Linked DNA regions of Homo sapiens. The protein of the gene in region 2 interacts with the protein of the main gene of each other region in a pairwise test. Each region holds a gene or a part of one and is shown on either strand. Other genes may lie near its edges. The genes, in order: YJU2, ZNF829 and PPT1.

What was found.
Region 1: the proteins of ZNF829 (region 2) and YJU2 interact in binary tests that used the Homo sapiens proteins (3 or more experiments, as listed by UniProt).
Region 3: the proteins of ZNF829 (region 2) and PPT1 interact in binary tests that used the Homo sapiens proteins (3 or more experiments, as listed by UniProt).

The regions. Positions count from the first base shown.
Region 1 is NC_000019.10:4,257,070-4,264,177, forward strand, and holds part of YJU2 (splicing factor YJU2), read left to right. Parts: intron 1-1,172; coding exon 1,173-1,354; intron 1,355-4,924; coding exon 4,925-5,045; intron 5,046-7,108.
Region 2 is NC_000019.10:36,892,191-36,899,298, reverse strand, and holds part of ZNF829 (zinc finger protein 829), read left to right. Parts: intron 1-6,080; exon of another isoform or gene 6,081-6,481; intron 6,482-6,827; coding exon 6,828-7,108. UniProt on the Homo sapiens protein: May be involved in transcriptional regulation.
Region 3 is NC_000001.11:40,080,245-40,087,352, reverse strand, and holds part of PPT1 (palmitoyl-protein thioesterase 1 isoform 1 precursor), read left to right. Parts: intron 1-6,865; coding exon 6,866-6,956; intron 6,957-7,108. UniProt on the Homo sapiens protein: Has thioesterase activity against fatty acid thioesters with 14 -18 carbons, including palmitoyl-CoA, S-palmitoyl-N-acetylcysteamine, and palmitoylated proteins. In contrast to PPT2, PPT1 can hydrolyze palmitoylated proteins and palmitoylcysteine.

The DNA.
Region 1 (7,108 bases), about 33 Mb from region 2:
CAAGGTCACAGCACTGGGAAGCAGCCAGGCAGGATTCACTCCCAACCTGCCTGGCTCCAAAGCCACTTCTCAGGGACCCGTGGCCACCAGACTCGCCTCCCTCAGCCTCAGTTTCCGTTTCTGTAAAATGGGGGTTGTGAGGATTAAATGAGATGGCATATGGAAACCTCTTAGCCCAGGGCCCGGTGTACAGTAGGTGCTCAGGTTGTCTTTTACAATTTTTCCTTAATATTATTATTTTTGAGATAGAGTCTCGCTCTGTCACCCAAGCTGGAATGCATTGGCACGATCTGAGCTCAGTCAACCTCTGCCTCCTGGGTTCAAGTGATTCTCCTGCCTCAGCCTCCCAAGTAGCTGGGATTACAGGTGTGTGCCACCACGCCTGGATAATTTTTGTATTTTTATTATTTATTTATTTTTTTGAGATGGAGTCTCACTCTGTCACCCAGGTTGGAGTCCAGTGGTGCAATCTTGGTTCACTGCAACCTCTGCCTCCCGGGTTCAAGCAATTCTCCTGCCTCAGCCTCCCAAGTAGCTGGGATTACAGGCACATGCCACTACGCCCAGCTACTTTTTGTATTTTTAGTAGAGATGGGGTTTCGTCATGTTGGCCAGGCTGGTCTTGAACTCCTGACCTCAAGTGATCTGTCTGCCTCGGCCTCCCAAAGTGCTGGGATTACAGGCGTGACCCATAACACCCAGCCTGTATTTTTAGTAGAGACAGGGTTTCACCATGTTGGCCAGGCTGGTCTCGAACTCCTGATCTCAGGTGATCCGCCCGCTCCGGCCTCCCAAAATGCTGGGATTACAGACGTGAGCCACTGTGCCTGGCCAAATTTTTCCTTATTATTCTTACTGAAAGATGGCACCAGGCCAGAAATCCAGGCCACCTGGGTCCAGAGCCAGCCTCTTTCCACCCCACCCTGCCCCAGGGCTCAGATCCCGGCTCCACCACTGCTCAGCCCCATGTGGTCACTTTCCCTCCCCAGACCTGAGTGTTCTCACCTGTGAAATGGACACAGCGCTGGGCATGGGCAGGGGGTTCCCTGAGCAGGATGGAAACGTGGGGGTAGGGGTTCCTCCCGTGGCCCGCAGTGGCCCCCGAGGCCAGACAGGGTTTGCCCCGTGGTGCGATCCCCATGCACTCAGCCCCGCCGCCCCGCGCCCGCCAGGTGCTGGAGAACCGGACCAAGGACTCCAAGCTGGAGATGGAGGTGCTGGAGAACCTCCAGGAGCTGAAAGACCTGAACCAGCGGCAGGCGCACGTGGACTTCGAGGCTATGCTGAGGCAGCACCGCCTGTCGGAGGAGGAGCGGCGGAGGCAGCAGCAGGAGGAGGACGAGCAGGAGACCGCGTGAGTCAGGGCCGGCCCAACCCAGCCCCACCTCGCAGCCTCTGCCCCGGCAGGCGCTGCCTCTGCCCCAGACCCTTTCCCCGCTCTCTGGAGTGTCGCCTTTGCAAGGACCCCTTTCCCACCGCCCATCTCACTTTCTCCCTTGTGGCGTCTCTCGAGGGGGTCCCAGGCCACTGCCGGGCACGGTGACTTAGCACGTGGTCGCCCGCATGGCTGCGGTTTGTCACAGCGAGAGGACACAGCAGATTCAGCAAAGGGGAAAGGCATGTGTGGTGTGTCGGGGGCCAGGCCTTCCAGATCCTCTCCTGGTGGAGCTTCGCAGGACGCGCCTCATCCCCTAGCACCAGCCTGGAGGACTCGAGAAAGGCGCCATCACTAGGGAAGCTCCTAGAGACCCAGCGTGGGGTTCCTATGGGGCCTGGTCCCACAGCCCCCGCTGCCTCACCCATGCCGGGATTCCAGACTCCAGAGGAAAGCAGGGGTCACGCATAAACCATGGTGTTTGCAGGAACAGCTGAAGCCCCAGAGCCCGTCCCATCCATGAGGGTGGGAGGCCCCCAGCACAGGCTCCCGGACACCCACCAAGGGACGCCCTCACCAGCCGCCTTCTGAGGACACAGCCTCAGGCCTCCTGGGTGAACACTTTTCTTTTTTTTTTTTTTTTTTTTTTTTTTTTTGAGACGGAGTCTCCCTCTGCTGCCCAGGCTGGAGGGCAGTGGCGCCATCTCGCTCACTGCAAGCTCCGCCTCCCGGGTTCATGCCATTCTGCCTCAGCCTCCCGAGTAGCTGGGATTAGAGGCATCCGCCACCAAGCCCGGCTAATTTTTTGTAATTTTTAGTAGAGATGGGGTTTCACCGTGTTAGCCAGGATGGTCTCGATCTCCTGACCTCGTGATCCGCCCGCCTCGGCCTCCCAAAGTGCTGGGATTGCAGGCGTGAGCCACCGCGCCCGGACGACGCTTTTCTTTTTCTTTGAGACGGGGTTTTGCTCTGCCGCCCAGGCTGGAGTGCAGTAGTGCAGTCATAGCTCACTGTAGCCTCCATCTCCCGGGCTCAAGCGTTCCTCCTGCCTCAGCCTTCTGGGTAGCTGGGACCACAGGGACACATCACCATGCCCAGCTAATTGTTTTTATTTCTGTAGAGACAGGACCTCGCTATGTTGGACAGGCTGGTTTTGAACTCCTGGCCTCAAGCGATCCTCCCACCTTAGTCTCCTGAAGTGCTGGATGACACGTGTGAGCCCCTGTGGTTGGCTGGTGAATGCCTTTGACGCCGACCACCTCTGAGCCCGCGTGCTGATCCCCTCCTTTCCTGGTGCCTCATCTCCCCTCCCTCCTTTAGAATCTGAGCTGTAAGGACAGGGACGTGGTGGCCTCTCCTGTGTCCCCAGGGCTTCCAGCAGGTAGGTTCTGGTAGGTTCCACGTCAGTGCCTGATGGGTGTGCAGAGCAGCGATACCGTGCAGAACAGTGTTGGGAGCCTGCGTTCATCCTGCACCTTCCGGGTGCCGGGCGTGGCTGTAACCTCACTACCCACACAGCCCTGGGGGTCAGTGTGATCTTCATCATGGAGGGGACTGAGGTCCAGGGAGGTCCAGGCATGAGCCCCACCAAGGTTACCCTCCAGGCTCCATCCAGACAGGCTGGTTCCGGCATCCAGGCACTTAACCACACCACTGCCCTCGGTGGACACGGAAAAGTTAATGTAAAAAAGTAGAAGGGGCCGGGCGCAGGGTCTCCTGCCTGCCATCCTGCACTGTGGGAGGCTGAGGCGGGCGGATCACCTGAGGTCAGCAGTTCGAGACCAGCCTGGCCAACATGGCGAAACCCCATCTGTACTAAAAATACAAAAACAAATTAGCTGGGCGTGGTGGCAGATGCCTGTAATTCCAGCTGCTCCAGAGGCTGAGACAGGAGAATTGCCTGAACCCGGGAGGCAGAGGTTATAGTGAGCCGAGATGGTGCCACTGAACTCCAGCCTGGGCGACAGAGCAAGATTCCTCCTAAAAAAAATGAAAATTAAAAAGTAGACTAGGTGCGGTCGGTGGCTCACGCCCGTAATCCCAGCACTTTGGGAGGCTGAAGTGGGCGTATCACCTGAGGTCAGGAGTTCGAGACCAGCCTGGCCAAGATGGTGAAACCCCGTCTCTACTAAAACTACAGAAATTAGCTGGACATGGTGGTATGTGCCTGTAGTCCTAGCTAACATTTTTAATTTTTTTAGAGACGGGGTCTCGCTATGTTGCCCAGGCTGGTCTCTAACCCCTGGCTCAAGCGATCCTCCCGTCTCAGCGTCCCAAAGAGCTGGGATGACAGGCATGAGCCACTGCATCTGGCCCCTTTAATCTGTTTTATGTTTAAATAGAGGAAGTGGTAACCACTGGGTTAAGGAAGTCCCAATGGGTGCTCTGCCCTCACGGAGCTCACTGTGTGGGGAGGGAGAGGGACAAGGAGACCAATACCCAGGACAACATCCATCTGGGTGAGAGAGAAGCCAGGATGCGTGAGCTTGAATTATGAGGATGAGCTTCTCAGAGGAAGAGCGTCTTGCATTGGGTATTGAAGGTCGAGTAGGAGTTCACCAAGCGAGTGCTTGGCAAAGGGGTCATCCCAGGTAAGGGGATGTAGGCCCCTGATTTTTAAAATCCTTTTTGCAGAGATGCGGTCTTGCTGTGTTGCCCAGGCTGGTCTCATGCTCCTGGCCTTAAGCATTTCTCCTGCCTTGGCCTCTAAAGGCACAGGGATTACAGACATCAGCCACCATGTCTGGCCCCAAGACATTTTTCTAAAAGACATTTTCTTTGAAGCTATATCCCCTGATTAGAGTTCTCACACTGTGGTTCTCACATAAACCACTCCCAGAATTAGAGACCGGCCTGGCCAAGATGGCGAAACCCCGCCTCTACTAAAAATACAAAAATTAGCTGGACACGGTGGTGCGTGCCTGTAGTCCTAGCTGCTCGGTAGGCTGAGGCTGGAGAATCGCTTGAACCCAGGAGGCGGAGGTTGCAGTGAGCCAAGATCACGCCACTGCACTCCAGCCTGGACAACAAAGACTCCATCTCAAAAAAGAAAAAAAAAATACAAAAATTAGCCGGGTGTGGTGGCAGGCACCTGTAATCCCAGGTACTTGGGAAGCTGAGGCAGGAGAATCGCTTCAACCTGGGAGGTGGGGGTTGCAGTGAGCCAAGATTGCGCCACTGCACTCCAGCCTGGGCAACAGAGCGAGACTCTGTCTCAAAAATAAAATGAAATAAAATTTAATAAGGCATAGGAACACGCCTGTGGACCCAGCTACTCAGGAAGCTGAGTGGGGAGGATCGCTTGAGCCCAGGAGGTTGAGGTTGCAGTGAGCTGTGATTGTGCCACTTCACCCTCCCTGAGTGACAGAGTGAGACCTTGTCTCTTAAAAAAAAAAAGTAATCTGTGCTCCCCCTACTCCCTCCCACCCCTGCTCACTGAGGGCAGGAAGAGGTCTCCAGGCACCCAGGCCCCTCGCCACCCCAGCAGGTACATCCCAGGCACTGTTCCCCAAACAGAGCACGTCCAAGTTCCCATCTTCCATCCCACAGGGCCCTGTTGGAGGAAGCCAGAAAGCGAAGACTGCTGGAGGACTCCGACTCAGAGGATGAGGCTGCTCCCTCGCCCCTGCAGCCAGCCCTTCGGCCCAACCCCACCGCCATCCTGGATGAGGTAAGTGGGGTGCCTGAGTCCTGGGGGCTCCCAGGTGAACTAGGGACAACTGAAGCCAGGGGTCAGCTTGACTTTTTCTTTTGTTTTTTGTTTTTGTTTTTTGAGACGGAGTCTCGCTCTGTCGCCTAGGCTGGAGTGCAGTGGCACGATCTTGGCTCACTGCAACCTCTGCCTCCCAGGTTCAAGCGATTCTCCTGCCTCAGCCTCCCGAGTAGCTGGGACTACAGGCACGCGCCACCAAGCCCAGCTAATTTTTTGTATTTTTAGTAGAGATGGGGTTTCACCATGTTGGGAAGGATGGTCTCAATCTCTTCACCTCGTGATCCGCCCGCCTAGGCCTCCCAAAGTGCTGGGATTACAGGCGTGAGCCACCATGCCCGACCAGAACTTGACTTTTTCTTAAAAGGCCAGTCTGCACCCTAACTCCTCCACCCTGTGGCTGTAGCCCAAAACACCCATGATCAGGTGTAAATAAGTGGGTGTTGCCTGGTGCCAATAAATCTTTATTTATAGGCGGGGTGCAGTGGCTCATGCCTGTAATCCCAGCATTTTGGGAGGCCAAGGCAGGAGGATCGCTTGAGGCCGGGAGTTTGAGACCAGCCTGGGCAACAAAGTGAGACCCCTTCTTTACAAAATTACAAAAATTAGTCATGGGTGGTGGTGCATGTCTGTGGTCCCAGCTGTTTGAGAGACTGAGGCAGGAGGACCGCTTGAGCCCAGAAGGTCAAGGCTGCAGTGAGCTGCATCAGTATGACCGAACTCCAGCCTGAGCAAGAGTGAGACCCTGTCTAAAATAAACAAATAAAAATTAAGGCTGAGTGCAGTGGCTCACGCTTGTAATCCCAGCTACTCAGAAGGCTGAGGCAGGAGAATCGCTTGAACCCGGGAGGCGGAGGTTGCAGCGAGCCGAGATCGTGCCACTGCACCCCAGCCTGGGTGACAGAATGAGACTCTGTCTCAAAAAAAAAAAAAAAAAAACTTAATTTACTAAAACTGGTGGCAGGCCTATGGGTCTGTAATTCGCCAACCCCTGTTTAAGCTGCCGAAAGAAGAGAATGTAAAGAAAGAACATAGAAATTTATTTCTCAGTCATAACAGCCCTGGGCTGACAGTCTAGGACTTCGGGCAGCTCTGCTCCTTGGAACCATTCAGGGACTCAGCCTCCTTCCTTCTGGAGCACGGCTTCCTGCGCTGTGGCCACAGCTGGCTCAGAGCACCTTCAGGGTCCGGCTGTGGGAAGGCAAAAAGTGTGTGGAGGACCACGCAGCCTCAGATGCGGCCCACCTCAGTTCTTCTCTCATGCCAGAGGCCACAGCATAGTCACAAGGCCCCATCTGGTGGCGAAGGAAACTGTGAGATGCATCCTCCAGCTGGTCCGTGCCTGGCTGTGCTGCCAACTAGAACGAAGGGAGGCCGGGCACCGTGGCTCAAAGTGCTGTAATCCCAGCACTTTGGGAGGCCGAGGCAGGCGGATCATCTGAGGTCAGGAGTTCGAGACCAGCCTGGCCAACATGGAGAAACCCTGTCTCTACTAAAAATACAAAAATTAGCTGGACATGGCGGTGCCTGCCTGTAATCCCAGTTACTCGGGAGGCTGAGGCAGGAGAATCACTTGAACCTGGGAGGCAGAGGTTGCAGTGAGCTGAGATTGTGCCATTGCCCTCCAGCCTGGGCAACAGAGTGAGACTCTATCTCAAAAAAAAAAAAAAAAAAAAGGAGGAAGGAGTTTTGGTGGATGACCAGCATTTTCCACCACAGCTGACTCATCCAAGGTGGCCTCAGCCACTCTGGTTTGTTCATTGAAGAAGGTGGTAAAAGTAGGGGCTCATAAACCAATAACACAGACACACAGAAACGATTGTTCTCGGCCGGGCGCGGTGGCTCACACCTGTAATCCCAGCACTTTGGGAGGCCAAGGCGGGTGGATCACGAGGTCAGGAGATCGAGATCATCCTATCTAACACGGTGAAACCCCATCTCTGCTAAAAATACAAAAAATTAGCCGGGCGTGGTGGCGGGCGCCTGTAGTCCCAGCTACTCAGGAGGCTGAGACAGGAGAATGG
Region 2 (7,108 bases):
TAATTTTAAAACTGTTTATAGAGATCGGGGGGGGTCTCCCTATGTTCCCCAGGCTGGTCTTGAACTCCTGGCCTCAAGTGATCCTCCTGACTTGGCCTCCCAATGTGCTGGGATTACAGTTATGAGCCGCTATGGCACTGCTATTAAGTTTTTTTGCTTCCTTGTTAATTCTGGATATTAGTCCCTTCTCAGGTGAAGAGTTTGCAAATATTTTCTCCCATTCTACAGGTCTCTTCACTCTGCTGATTGTTTCCTTTGCTGTGCAGAAGCATTTTAGTTCAATATAGTCCAATTTGTCTATTTTTTTGTTGTTGCCCCTTATTGAAAATATCTTTGAGGTCTTATCTAAAATATATTTGCCTATTCTTCTGAAGTGTTTCCCCTATGTTTTCCTGCAGTAGTTTTATAATTTGGGGTCTTATAGTTAAGTATTTAATTCATTTTGAGTTTATTTTTGTATATGGTGAGAGATACAGTCTAGTTTCATTCTTCACTATATGGATAACCAGTTTTCCCAGCACCATTTATTGAACAGCGTGTCCTTTTCCCTATGTCTGTTCTTGGCACCTTTGTCAACCATCAGTTGACTATAAATACATGGATTTATTTGTGGGTTCTCTCTTCTGTTCCATTGGTCTTTGGGTCTATTTTTATGACAGTACCATGCTGTTTTGGTTACGACAGCTTTGTAGTATATTTTGAAGTTTGATTCTTCCACTTTTGTTCTTTCGCTACAGATTGCATTGGCTATTTGGCATTTTTTATGGTTTCCTACAAATTTTAGGATTTTTTTTCCTGTTCATGTAAAAACTGACTGGCATTTCAGTCGGGATTGCATTGAATCTGTAGATTGCATTGAATCTGTAGATTGCTTTGGGAAGTATGTTCATTTTAACAATAGTTCTTCCAGTGCATAAGCATGCAAATATCTTTTTATTTGTTTGTTGTCTTCAATTTCTTTTGTCTGTGTTTTGTAGTTTTCCTTACAGAGGTCTTTCACTTCATGGTTAAATTTATTTCTAGGTTGTTTTTTGTAGCTATTATATTAATAAATGGGATTGTTTTCTTGATTTCTTTTTCAGCTAATTCATTATTGTGGATGTATAGAAATCCTTTTTTTTTCCCTTTTTGAGACAGAGTTTTGCTCTGTCTCCCAGGCTGGAGGAGTGCAATGGCATGATCTCAGCTCTCTGCAGCTTCCACCTCCTGGGTTCAAGCAGTTCTGCCTCAGCCTCCCACGTAGGTGGGACCACAGGTGCCTGCCACCACACCTGGCCAATTTTTGTATTTTTAGTCAAGACAAGGTTTCACCATGTTGGCCAGGCTGGTCTCAAACTCGTGACCTCAAGTGATCCACCCACCTCGGCCTTCCAAACTGCTGGGATTATAGGCGTGAGCCACCGTGCCCAGCGTACTACTTATTTTTGTATATTGATTTTGTATCTTGCAACTTTACTGATTTCATTGATCAGTTCCAAGAATTTCTGGTGGCATCTTTAGGTTTTTAAATATATGTAAGATCATGTCATCTGTAAAGGGACAGTGTGACTTTCTATTATCCAATCTGGATGCCTTTTATTTCTTTCTCTTGCCTGATTGCTCTGGATAGGACTTCCAGTACTATATTGAATAATAGTGGTGAATGTGGGCTTCTTTATCTTGTTCCAGTTCTTAGAGGAAAAGCTTTCGGCTTTTCCCCATTCAGTATGGTGTTAGCTGTACGTTTGTCATATATGGTCTTTATTATGTTATGTTTTTTAATGCCTAATCGTTGAGAGGTTTTTATAATGAAGAGACGTTGAAGTTTATCAGATGTTTCTCTGCATCTATTGAGCTGATCATATGGTTTTTATCCCTCATCCTGTTGATCTGATACATCATGTTTATTGATTTGCTTATGTTGAGCCATCCTTGCACTTTTCAGGAAAAATCTCACTTAATCGTTGTATATTATCTTGTTGTTGTATTATTGGATTTCATTTGCTAGTATTTCATTGAGGGGTTTTGTGTCTATGTTCATGAGGGATATCACCTCTTTTTGTTGTTGTTGTTGTGTCCTTCTCTGGTTTTGGTATCAGGGTAATGCTGGCCTTGTAGAATGGATTAGGAAGAATTAACTTCTCTTCCATTTTTTGGAATAGTTTGAGAAAAACTGAGGTTAGTTATTTGTAATTTTGGTAGGATTCAGCAGTAAAGCCCTTTAGTCTTGGGCTTTTTTTGTTGGGAGACATTTTACTATTGCTTCAATCTCATTACTCGTTATTGGTCTGCTCAGGTTCTTCTGCTCTGTTTCTTCCTGGTTCAGTCTTGGTAGGTTTTCATGTATCCAGGAATTTTTCTGTTTCCTCTAGGTTATCTGATTTGTTAGCATATAGTTGCCTGTAGTAGTCTTTGATGATCTTTAATTTCTTAATTGACCCAATGGGCATTCATGAGCAAGCACATTGTTTAAATTTCCATTTATTTGTGTGGTTTACAAAGTTTTTGTTATTGATTTCTAGTTTTATTCTAGTGTAGTCTGAGAAGATACTTGATATGATTTCAATTTTTAAAAATTAGTTATAACTTGTCTTATGGCCTAACGTATGGTCTCTTCCTGGAGGATGTTCCATGTGCTGATAGGAACAATGTGTATTCTGCAGCTGTTGGATAAAATGTTCAGTTAGTGTCTGGTAGGTCCATTTGGTCTAATATCCAGTTTAAATCCAAAGCTGTTGATTTTCTATCTAGATGAACTGTCTAATGCTGAGAGTGGGATGTTCAAATCCCGTACTATTATTTTATGGGAGTCTACCTTTTTTTGTTGTTGTTTTTTTGAGACAGAGTCTAGTTCCGTCGCCCAGGCTGGAGTGCAGTGGCACAATATTGGCTCACTGCAACCTCTGCCTCCCAGGTTCAAGCAATTCTCCTGCCTCAGCCTCCTGAGTAGCTCGGATTACAGGTGCATGCCACCACGCCCAGCTAATTTTTTTTTCTTTCTTTTTTTTTTTTTGACAGTCTTGCTCTGTCACCCAAGCTGGAGTGCAGTGGTGCGAACCCGGCTCACTTCAGGCTCCGTCTCCCAGGTTCACACCATTCTCCTGCCTCAGCCTCCCGAGTAGGTGGGACTACAGGTGCCTGCCACCATGCCTGGCTAATTTTTTGTATTTTTAGTAGAGACGAGGTTTCACCATGTTAGCCAGGATGGTCTCAATCTCCTGACCTCGTGATCTGCCTGCCTCAGCCTCCCAAAGTGCTGGGATTACAGGCATGAGCCACCGCGCCTGGCCACACCCAGCTAATTTTTGTATTTTTAGTAGAGACAGGGTTTCGTCATGTTGGGAAGGCTGGTCTCGAACTCCTGACCTCAAGTGATCCTCCCGCCTTGGCCTCCCAAAGTGTTGGGATTACAGGCATGAGCCACCATGCCCAGCCCTATCTCTCTTTTTAGATCTAATAATATTTGCTTATATATCTGGGTGCTGCAGTGTTGAGTGCCTATAAATTTAGAACTTTATATCCTCTGGCTGAATTGACCCATTTATCATTATATAATGACCTTCTTTGCTTCTTTTGCAGTTTTTTACTTAATGTCTGTTTTATTTAAGTATGGCTACTCTCACTTGCTTTTGGTTTGTTTGTGTGCAGTATTTTTTTTTCATCTCTTCACTTTCAGTCTATGATTTTATATATAAAGTGAGTTTCTCACAGCCAGTATATAGGTGAGTCATATTTATTTTATCCATTCAACCAGACTGTATCTTTTAAGTGGGGAATTTGACTGTTTACATTCAAGGTTATTATTAATAGGTGAGGATTTATTCCTAATCTGTTAATTTTTTATGGTTGTTTTATATCCTTTTTCTTTCCTCTTATCATTTGGTTTGGTGGTTTTATGTAATGGTTACATCTGAGTCCTTTCTCTTTCCATTTGTGTATCTGCTCTACCAGTGAGCTTCTTATTTTCATTTGTTTAATGATGGTAGATATGTCTTTTACTTCCAGATGTAGGACACCCTTTGCCATTTTTGATCGGGCCACCCTAGTTGTGATACATTTTCTCTGGGAAAAACTTTCTCCTTCATTTTTGAAGGATGGCTTTGCTAGGTACAGTATTCTTGGCTGACAGTGTTTTTTTAGCACTTTGAATATATCATCCCATTCTTTCCTGGCATGGAAGGTTTCTGCCAAGGTATCTGCTACTAGTTCTGATGAGGGTTCCCTTGTATGTGACTTGACGCCTGAGGGTTCCCTTATATGTGACTTGATGCCTTTCTCTTGCTTTTTTTAGAATTCTCTGTCTTTGACTTTTGACAGTTTGACTGTAATGGGCCTTGGAAAACCTTTTTGGATTGAATCTATTTGGGCATCATTGAGCCTTCTGTATCAGGATGTCTATATTGCTTACAAGACTTGGAAAGTTTTCAGTTATTTTGTTAAATAGGTTTTTATGCCTTTGCCCATCTCTTCTCCTAGAATACCCAAAATTTGAATATTTGGTTGCTTTATGATGTCCCATATGTCATCTAAGCTTTTTTCAGTTTTAAAAATTATTATTTTTTACTTTTTCTTCCTGGATTCTTTTAAAAAACCCTGTCCTCAAGTTCAGAAATTCTTTCTTCTGCTTGATCTAGTCTATTGTTGAAGCTCTCAATTGTGTTTTTTATTTCATTCATTGAAATTTGTCAGTTTCAGGACTTCTGTTTGGTTCTTTTTCATGATATCTATCTGCTGAATTTCTCATTCAGATCATGAATTGTTTTTTCTGATTCTTTTGGTTTTTATCCATGTTCTATTGTTTCCCACTGAGCTTCTTTAATATCATTATTTTGAATTCTTTTTCAGGCACTTGATAGATTTCTTGTTTGTTGGAATCTGTTGCTGGAGCATTATTGTATTACTTTGGAGATGTCATGGTTCCATGCTTTTTCGTGTTTCTTTTATCCTTACATTGATATCTGTGTATTTCTTGTTATGGTCATTTTTTCCAATTTTATGGATTTGTTTTCATAAGGAAAACCTTTTTCCTGTAGATGTATTTATAGTGTTGGTTGGGTAGGTTGCTTTGGCTTTGTTATAGGTGGATGCAGTGGTATAATCTCCATATGATTTCTCTGGCTGCAATCAGTGTCAGCAGTGTCTGTGAGTTCCTCAGTGGCTTAGGGCTTGGTTGTTAGTGGAAGCTGTGATGAGGCTTTTCTCATTGTTAGCAGGGCCAACAATGGTGATAGGATGAGGGGTATGCCAGGTAAAGGGGAGATCCATGTGGGAAGGCCCTGAGGGGCAGGGAGAACTTGAGGTGCTTGAAGGACTGGGGCTTCTTGAGCAAGTGGAAGTGGAGTATAACACAAGGTTGTAGAGGTAGGCAAGAGCCTCATTATTGGAGTCTTCTTGGTAATTACCAAGGAGTTTAGATTTTCAGGAGGGCAAAGTGAGACCAAATATCACACCAGGTGCTGAATGGATTAGAGGGTGCTAGAACATACTGGGGAAACCATTAGGAGATTCCTGTAGTGGTCTAGGAAAGAGGGGATTCAGTAATTAAATGAGGACAACTTTAAGAGATTTTTAGGGACTCACCCAGACTAAGTTTGGCCAATGATTGTGTGGAGGGAATACTTAAGATAGTCTAGCTGGCTTTATTTTGATGTCTTCAAGCCATTTTATTTGCCCAATATCTGTTTTTGCTATGACATTTTTTCATAATAATAGCTACCAATACTGAGTGCTTACTTTATATCAGATTATTTATATACGTTATTCCTCATCTTTTTAGCAATCATAAGTTAAGTGTCAGTCCCATTTTAATAAACAAGGAAAAGAGGGCTCAGAGGTTGCCTTAAAGCATAGAACTGGGGCTCACTGTTTATATGTTGACATGGAGTTCCATTCTTCTCATAGAGTACATTTCATCCTATCTTAACTCTCTTGTGTCTCAAACTTGAGCCACCTTCCTTCTCAATCACTGCTATGACTTGAATTATTCATTTCTTTCTCCCAAGGTCAACATCACAGAATTCCAGAGCAAATTATTTTCAGTGAGTTCCTAGCCCATATCATGCTGTATGCACAGAAGAGATGTACCTGTCTACTCTTCCCACCAGTTGTGTTCAGCATATTAGATTTGTCGGAGGCTGGTGATTTGCCAGTATACCATTGCACAGTCACTGAACTCCACCCGCCCCCGACATTTAAACCTTTCAACACATTTGTTATTCTTAACAGTCCTTTCATGTAGGTCTGACAGTTATCTACGAATTGCAAAACATACAGTATCATACTCTGTGCATGTGAGCATATGTTTATGAACGTGTATATAATTAGAATATCTCACGCATGGTGCATGCCCTGGAGCAGAAGCGGCATCCTGCTGGCCTGTCCTCCTCCATGGCCCTCCAGCTTAACCCCTGCCTGGGCATGCTGATGGCCTTGCAGTCGGAGCTCCACAAGCTGTACGACGAGGAGACACAGAGCTGGGTCTCAGGCAGCGCCTGTGGGGGATCTGGGGTGGGGGCAAAAAAAATTTTTTTTTTTTAATTAGAATCTCTCTATAATATGGAGGATGGTGCTGAACACTGTGTATTCACCAAGGCTTAAGGTGACTCTGGTTCAGACCAAAATTTGAGGATCATAGAGGTCATCTACTTTCTGAATCCACATCCTCAGCTTCTTTTATTACCTCTCCTAATGTCTGTGCTTTTCTTGTCAGTTTTACAGATTGCCTCTCCACCTTTGAAAACTGTGTAATTTCTCAGATATTCTTTTCAGTTTAATTCTCCCATTTCTTTTTTAGAAGTTTTAACTTGCCCAGAATAGGAAAATTTATTTGCCTTTGTATTTTCTTTCAGATCTGGAATCAATGTGTGAGACCAAAATATTATCTCTAAAGAAGAGACATTTCAGTCAAGTAATAATTACCCGTGAAGACATGTCTACTTTTATTCAGCCCACATTTCTTATTCCACCTCAAAAAACTATGAGTGAAGAGAAACCATGGGAATGTAAGATATGTGGAAAGACCTTTAATCAAAACTCACAATTTATCCAACATCAGAGAATTCATTTTGGTGAAAAACACTATGAATCTAAGGAGTATGGGAAGTCCTTTAGTCGTGGCTCACTCGTTACT
Region 3 (7,108 bases), on a different chromosome or scaffold from region 2:
GAGAATTGCTTGCACCCAGAAGGCGGAGGTTGCAGTGAGCTGAGATCGCACCACTGCACCCCAACCTAGATGACAGAGTGAGACTCTGTCTCAAAAAATAAAAATAAAAAATACTGATTAAAAGCTATAGATTGATGTGTTTATCTTCACTTCCTCCTTAAACTTTAATTAAGTGGTAGCAGAAGAATAAAAAGTGATAAACCCACAAGGGCAGAGAGAACAGGGAGAGAGGAGGTAAGAGATCATAAAAAATGGCAACATGTTTTTGAAAGCAAGCAAGCAGATGAATGAGTGTGAGAACTGTTTTAGCAGAGCAGATGGTGAAGGCTTAAAGTAATAAAGAGAAATCATTTTGTCTTTGTGATACTGTCCCAGGTTGCCCCTGGTATTAGGGAGGATTAATTCTGGTTGCAAGAAGAAACCCATATCAAGCCAAAGTAAATTTTAAAAGAAAGTAATACTCTGTTGGTGCCTAAAGCCTCATAGGGCCTAGAATCAAGAATTGGGAGCCATGAGGAGCCAGGGTATTCTCTCTCCAGTGCCATTGTTGCTTCTCTCTCTGTGTCGCTGCTTCTTTCTCTCCATGCAGACCAGCTTCCCCTGCCACCCACATGATGGAAGGTGGCCTCGCACGGCTTCCAAATGTTTAATTTTCTGTTAGGAGATTGTCTCAGTCTGAGGCTAGACTCTCTTTGTCCCGATTCAGATTCTTCAGGAAGGGACCATGCCCCAGCTCAGGTCAGGTCTCCCCCTCTGCTCTCATTAGCTGTGGCCAGAGAAGTGGGACCGTGCTTACTAACCATACCCCACCTCCCTGTAAACCAGTAGGCCGGGCAGGAAGAGTGCAAGAGAGGCAGAGACCCCAAAAGATGTCTTCCACATTCTTCAGATAACTTAACCTTAGCAAAGCAAACGTGATATCCTAATACGCACAGTAACTGGTGGGGAAGCCCCCGGCTTGGCATGGTGAGGGCAACGAGGAATGGTATAATAGTTCTCTCTCTCCTTCCTGGATGTAAAACTACCCTCTAGTTCCCTTTTGCCTTTGCAGATGCTGTCAGCCCTTCCTAGCCTTCTCCTTCCTCCGGTTTGCTCCCTGCCATCCCCTGCCCCACGCTCTACCCTCCTACCTCTACACTCCCTGCCACAATGAATGCTTCAGTGTTGCCCTGGCCTTGGCCTCCGTCTTCCCCCGTACCAGCTCAGAGGAAGCTAGAGCTTTACATATCCTGTTTAATTTTCATAGCAACTTGCCTTCCCCAGGTCTGCTCTGGGCCCCGCTCCCAGTTTGCACCCCACCCTCAGTGGATCTCAGAGTGCTTTTCCTCAATTGTCCAGTTTTCCCATGTCTTTGCCCTCAGCCGATGAACTTGCAACTTGGTTTTCTGGAAATATTAAGGCATCTACTCAGGCTCTCTCAGAGACTTTCAGCCATTCAAAAAAGTTAGAGAGTAATGTAACGAACTACAGGCATACCTCAGAGAAACTGAGGATTTGGTTCTAGACCACCACAATAAAGCAAATATTGTTAATACAGCAAGTCACACAAAGTTGTTGGTTTCCCAGCGCATATAAAAGCTATGTTTACACTATACTGAAGTCTATTAAGTGTGCAGTAGCATCATGCCTAAAAAAAGTACATGCCTTAATTAGAAAATACTTTATTGCTAAAAAATGCTAATCATTTGAGTCTTCAGCAAGTCATCTTTTTGCTGGTGGAGGGTCTTGCCTCGGTGTTGATGGCTGCTGACTGATCAGGGTGGTGGTTGCTGAAGGTTGGGATGTAGGGTCCAGCCCCACAGGGTCGGTGGGTTTTTCTCCCTGTGTGCGGAGATGAGAGATTGTAGAAATAAAGACACAAGACAAAGAGATAAAAGACAGCTGGGCCCGGGGGACCACTACCACCAAGACGTGGAGACTGGTAGCGGCCCCGAATGCCAGGCTGCGCTGATATTTATTGGATACAAGACAAGGGGGGCAGGGTAAGGAGTGTGAGCCATCTCCCATGATAGGTAAAGTCACATGGGTCACGTGTCCACTGGACAGGGGGCCCTTCCCTGTTTGGCAGCCGAGGTGGGGAGAGAGAGAGAGAAAGACAGCTTAGGCCATTATTTCTGCATATCAGAGACTTTTAGTACTTTCACTAATTTTGCTACTGCTATCTAAAAGGCAGAGCCAGGTGTACAGGATGGAACATGAAAGCAGGCTAGGAACATGACCACTGAAGCACAGCATCACAGGGAGATGGTTGGGCCTCCGGATAACTGCAGGCGGGCCTGACTGATGTCACGCCCTCCACAAGAGGTGGAGGAGTAGAGGCTTCTCTAAACTCCCCCGGGGAAAGGGAGACTCCCTTTCCCAGTCTGCTAAGTAGTGGGTGTTTTTCCTTGGCACTGACGCTACCACTAGACCACGGTCCGCTTGGCAACGGACATCTTCCCAGACGCTGGCATTACCGCTAGACCAAGGAGCCCTCTAGTGGCCCTGTCCGGGCATGACAGAGGGCTCACACTATTGTCTTCTGGTCACTTCTGAGCATGTCCCTTCAGCTCCTATCTCTGTATGGCCTGGCTTTTCCTAGGTTATGATTGTAGGGCAAGGATTATTATAATATTGGAATAAAGAATAATTGCTACAAACTAATGATGAATGGTATTCATATATAATCATGTTTATGATCTAGGTCTAGGATAACTCTTGTTGTTTTATATATTTTATTATACCGGAACAGCTCATGCCCTCGGTCTCTTGCCTCGGCACCTGGGTGGCCTGCTGCCCACATTGGGGTGGCTGTGCTAATTTCTTAAAGTGAGACAATGATGAACTTTGTATCAGTTGACTCTTCCTTTCATGAAAGATTTCTTTGTAGCATGCGATGCTATTTGGTAGCATTTTGGCCACAATAGAACATCTTTCAGAACTGGAGTCAATCCTCAAACCCTGCCGCTGCTTTTATGTAAGCTTATGTAATATTTATTCTAAATCCTTTGTTGTCGTTTCATCAGTGTTCACAGCATCTTCACCAGGAGTAGATTCCATCTCAAGAAGCCACTGTTTTGCTCATCCGTAAGAAGCAATTCCTTATCTGTTTTTTGAGATTGCAACAATTCAGTCACATCGTCAGGTTCCACTTCTAATTCTAGTTCTCCTGCTATTTCCACATCTGCAGTTACTTCCTTCATTGAAGTCTTGAATCCCTCAGCCATTCATGAGGGTTGGAATCAACTTCTTTTAAATTCCTGATAATACTGATATTTTGACCTCTTCCCGTGAATCATGAATTTTTGTTTGTTTGTTTTTGAGACAGAGTCTCACTCTGTCACCCAAGTTGGAGTGCAGTGGTGCCATTACAGCTTACTGCAACATAGCCTCAACCTCCCAGGCTCAAGCAATCCTCCCACCTCAGCGTCCTGAGCAGCTGGGACTACAGGTGTGAGCCACTACACCCCACTAATTTTTTAATTTTTTTGTAGAGATAGGATCTCATTTATGTTGCCCAGGCTAGTCTCACACTCCTGGGCTCCACTGATTTTCCCTCCTCACCCTCCCAAAGTGCATGGTACCCAGCCCGTTAATGTTCTTAATGGCATCTAGAATGATAAATCCTTTCCATCAGGTTTTCCGTTTACTTTGCCCAGATGCATCAAAGGGATCACTGTCTATGCAGCTACAACCTTGTAAATGTATTTCTTAAATAATAAGACTTGAAAATTGAAATTACTACTTGATCCATGGGCTGTAGAATGGATGTGCTGTGGCAGGCATGAAGACAACATTAATCTCTTTGTACATCTCCATCAGAGCGCTTGGGTGACCAGGTGCTTTTTAATGAGCTGTAATATTTGTTTGTTTTTTGAGTTTGTTTTTAAACTTTTTTTAATTAAAAAAAATAGTTTTTGAGACAGGGTTGTGCTCTCTTGCCCAGACTAGAGTGCAGTGGTGTGATCACAGCTCACTGCAGCCTTCACCTCCTGGACTCAAGCCATCCTCCCACTTCAGCCTCCTGAGTAGCTAGGACTACAGGCATGCACCGCCATGCTCGGCTACTTTTAAAAAGAATTTTCTTTTCTAGAGGTGGGGTCTTGCTATGTTGCCCAAGCTAGTCTTGAACTCCTGGCCTCAAATGGTCCTCCTACCTTGGCCTCCCAAAGTGCTGGCATTGTAGGTATGAGCCACCATGCCCAGCTGCGTGGTAATGTTTTGAAAGGAATCTTTTTTTCTGAGCAATAGGTCTCAACAGTGGGCTTAAAATAGTCAGCAAACCACACTGTAAACAGATCTGCTGTCATCCAGGCTTTGTGTTCCATTTGTAGAGCACAGGCAGAGTAATTTAGCGTAGTTCTTAAGGGCCCTAGGATTTAAAAAATGGTAACCCAGCATTGGCTTCAGCTTCAAGTCATCAGCTCCATGAGGCACTCACAAGAGAGTCAGCCTGTCCTTTGAAGTTTTGAAGCCAGGCATTGACTTCTCCTCTATAGCTGTGAAAGTCCTAGATGGCATCTTCTTCCAATTTAAGACTGTTTCACCTACACTGAAAATTTGTTGTTTATGGTCGCCACCTTCATTAAGTATCTTAGCTAGATCTCCTGGATAACTTACTGCAGCTTCTACATCAGCACTTGCTGCCCCATCTTGCACTCCTGTGTTATGGAGATGGTTTCTTTCCTTGAACCTTACAAACCAACCTCTGCTAGCTTCACACTTTTTTTCTGCAGCTTCCTCACCTCTCTCAGCCTTCATTGAATTGAAGAGAGTTAGGACGTTGCTCTGGATTAGGCTTTGGCTTAAGGGAATGTTGTGGCTGGTTTGGTCTTCTATCTAGACCACTCAGATTTTCTCCATAGCAGCAATAAGACTGTTTTGCTTCCTTATTATTTGTGTGTTCACTGAAATAACACTTCTAATTTTCCTCAGGAACTTTTTTTTTTTTGCATTCTATAAATGTTCAGAGTTCTAAACCTTTAAAAGGTTTCAAATACATGTATAAACACATTCTAGAATGTCACTCTGACTGTTGCTTCCTTTAACTTCAGTCTCATCTGCTCCTGGGAGGGAGAGCTCCATCTCTGACGTAGCTGGCTCTGTTGGGCTTTAGCGCCAGCCTGCTCCACCGAGTGGCGTTTTCAGGACCACTGCCTCTGGGCAGCTCTTCCACTCTGGCTACGGAGCGTATGTTGTAGAAATTTTGATTTCTCTCCCTGCCAACCTGGGATAGAGTTTGTTCGAATTTCCCCATGTGAGGCCTTGGGGTAACCGTGCCCATTTTGAGGAGGTGGGGGCTGGAAGGGAAGAGGAAGTGGAGAGAGATTGGAAAGAAAGTATAAAGAGTCCCCTTTGCTCCAGTTCCCAGCAAGTTCCTCATCTCCATCTGAGACTACCTCAGCCTGGACCTTATTGTCTATATCACTATCAGGCTTTTGGTCAAAGCCATTCAACAAGTCTCTAGAAAGTTCCAAGCTTTCCCACATTTTCCTGTCTTCTTCTGAGGCCTCCAAACTGTGCCAGCCTCTGCCTGTTACCCAGTTCCAAAGTCACTTCCACATTTTGGGTAACTTTTCAGCAGCACCCCACTCTACTGGTACTTATTTACTGTATTAGTCTGTTTTCATGCTACCGATAAAGACATACCCGAGACTGGGCAAATAGAGGTTTATAATGGACTTACAGTTCCATGTGGCTGGGGAAGCCTCACAATCATGGCGGAAGGCGAAAGGCACATCTCACATGACGGTAGACAAAAGAAGAGAGCTTGGGCAGGGAAACTCCCCTCTTAATTTTATTTTCTATTTATTTATTTATTTATTTATTTATTTTTTGAGATGGATTCTCGCTCTGTCTCCCAGGCTGGAGTGCAATGGCGTGATCTTGGCTCACTGCAACCTCAGCTTCCCAGGTTCAAGCGATTCTCCCTCCCTCTGCCTCCCAAGTAGCTGGGATTACAGGCACATGCCACCGTGCCTGGCTAATTTTTGTATTTTTAGTAGAGACGGGGTTTCCTCATGTTGGCCAGGTTGGTTTCGAACTCCTGACCTCAGGCGATCTGCCCGCCTTGGCCTCCCAAAGTGCTGGGATTATAAGCATGAGCCACAGAATCTGGCCCAACTCCCCTCTTTGAAACCATCAGATCTCATGAGACTTATTCACTGTCACGAGAACAGCACAGGAAAGACCCACCCCTGTAATTCAGTCACCTCCCATGACATATGGGAATTGTGGGAGTTACAATTCAAGATGAGATTTGGGTGAGGACACAGCCAAACCATATCAGCATGATAAGTATGATAAACCCCAGTGTCACAGGAGAAGCAAATATTGATGAGTCCTTTGCCTGAATCTTTTATAATTTCTGTACTATGCTGAACAGTCTGTCTCAACAAGGTGTCTTGTTGACAGACTGTTTCCTAGGTGCAAGTCTTGTCTTCTGTATTAAAGGGTAAGGCCTGGGACTTGAGGGCTTTGGCCTTTTGTCCTTGTTTTTTGAGACAGAGTCTCACTCTGTCGCACAGGCTGAAGTGCAGTGCTGCGATCTCAGCTCACTGCAACCTCTGCCGCCGGGGTTCTAGCAGTTCTCCTGCCTCAGCCTCCCAAGTAGCTAGGATTACAGGCGCCTGCCGCCGCGCCTGGCTAATTTTTGTAGTTTTAGTAGAGACGGGGTTTCACCATCTTGGCTAGGCTGGTCTTGAACTCCTGACCTCGTGATCCACCTGCCTCAGCCTCCCAAAGTGCTGGGATTACAGGTGTGAGCCACTGTGCCTGGCTGGCCTTTTGTCCTTTTAAAGTCTCTTGGTGGCCTTTGCACTGAGCATGCCCTGGGCGTACTGACTGACCTGTAGCTTGATCACCTCATTCTTTTTTTTTCCTACAGCCTCGTGCAAGCCGAATACTGGCATGACCCCATAAAGGAGGATGTGTATCGCAACCACAGCATCTTCTTGGCAGATATAAATCAGGAGCGGGTAAGCACCCAAACCGGGCTCCCATAGATGTGCGTTCTTTTTCCTGTTTAGGTCTTCATAAACAAATCAGCAGTGACTGTTTACCCAAACTGTCCTGGGCAGACACTAGGAAAGAGAAGTTCTGTTTTTTTTGGGAGGCAGGGCCTTTGAGA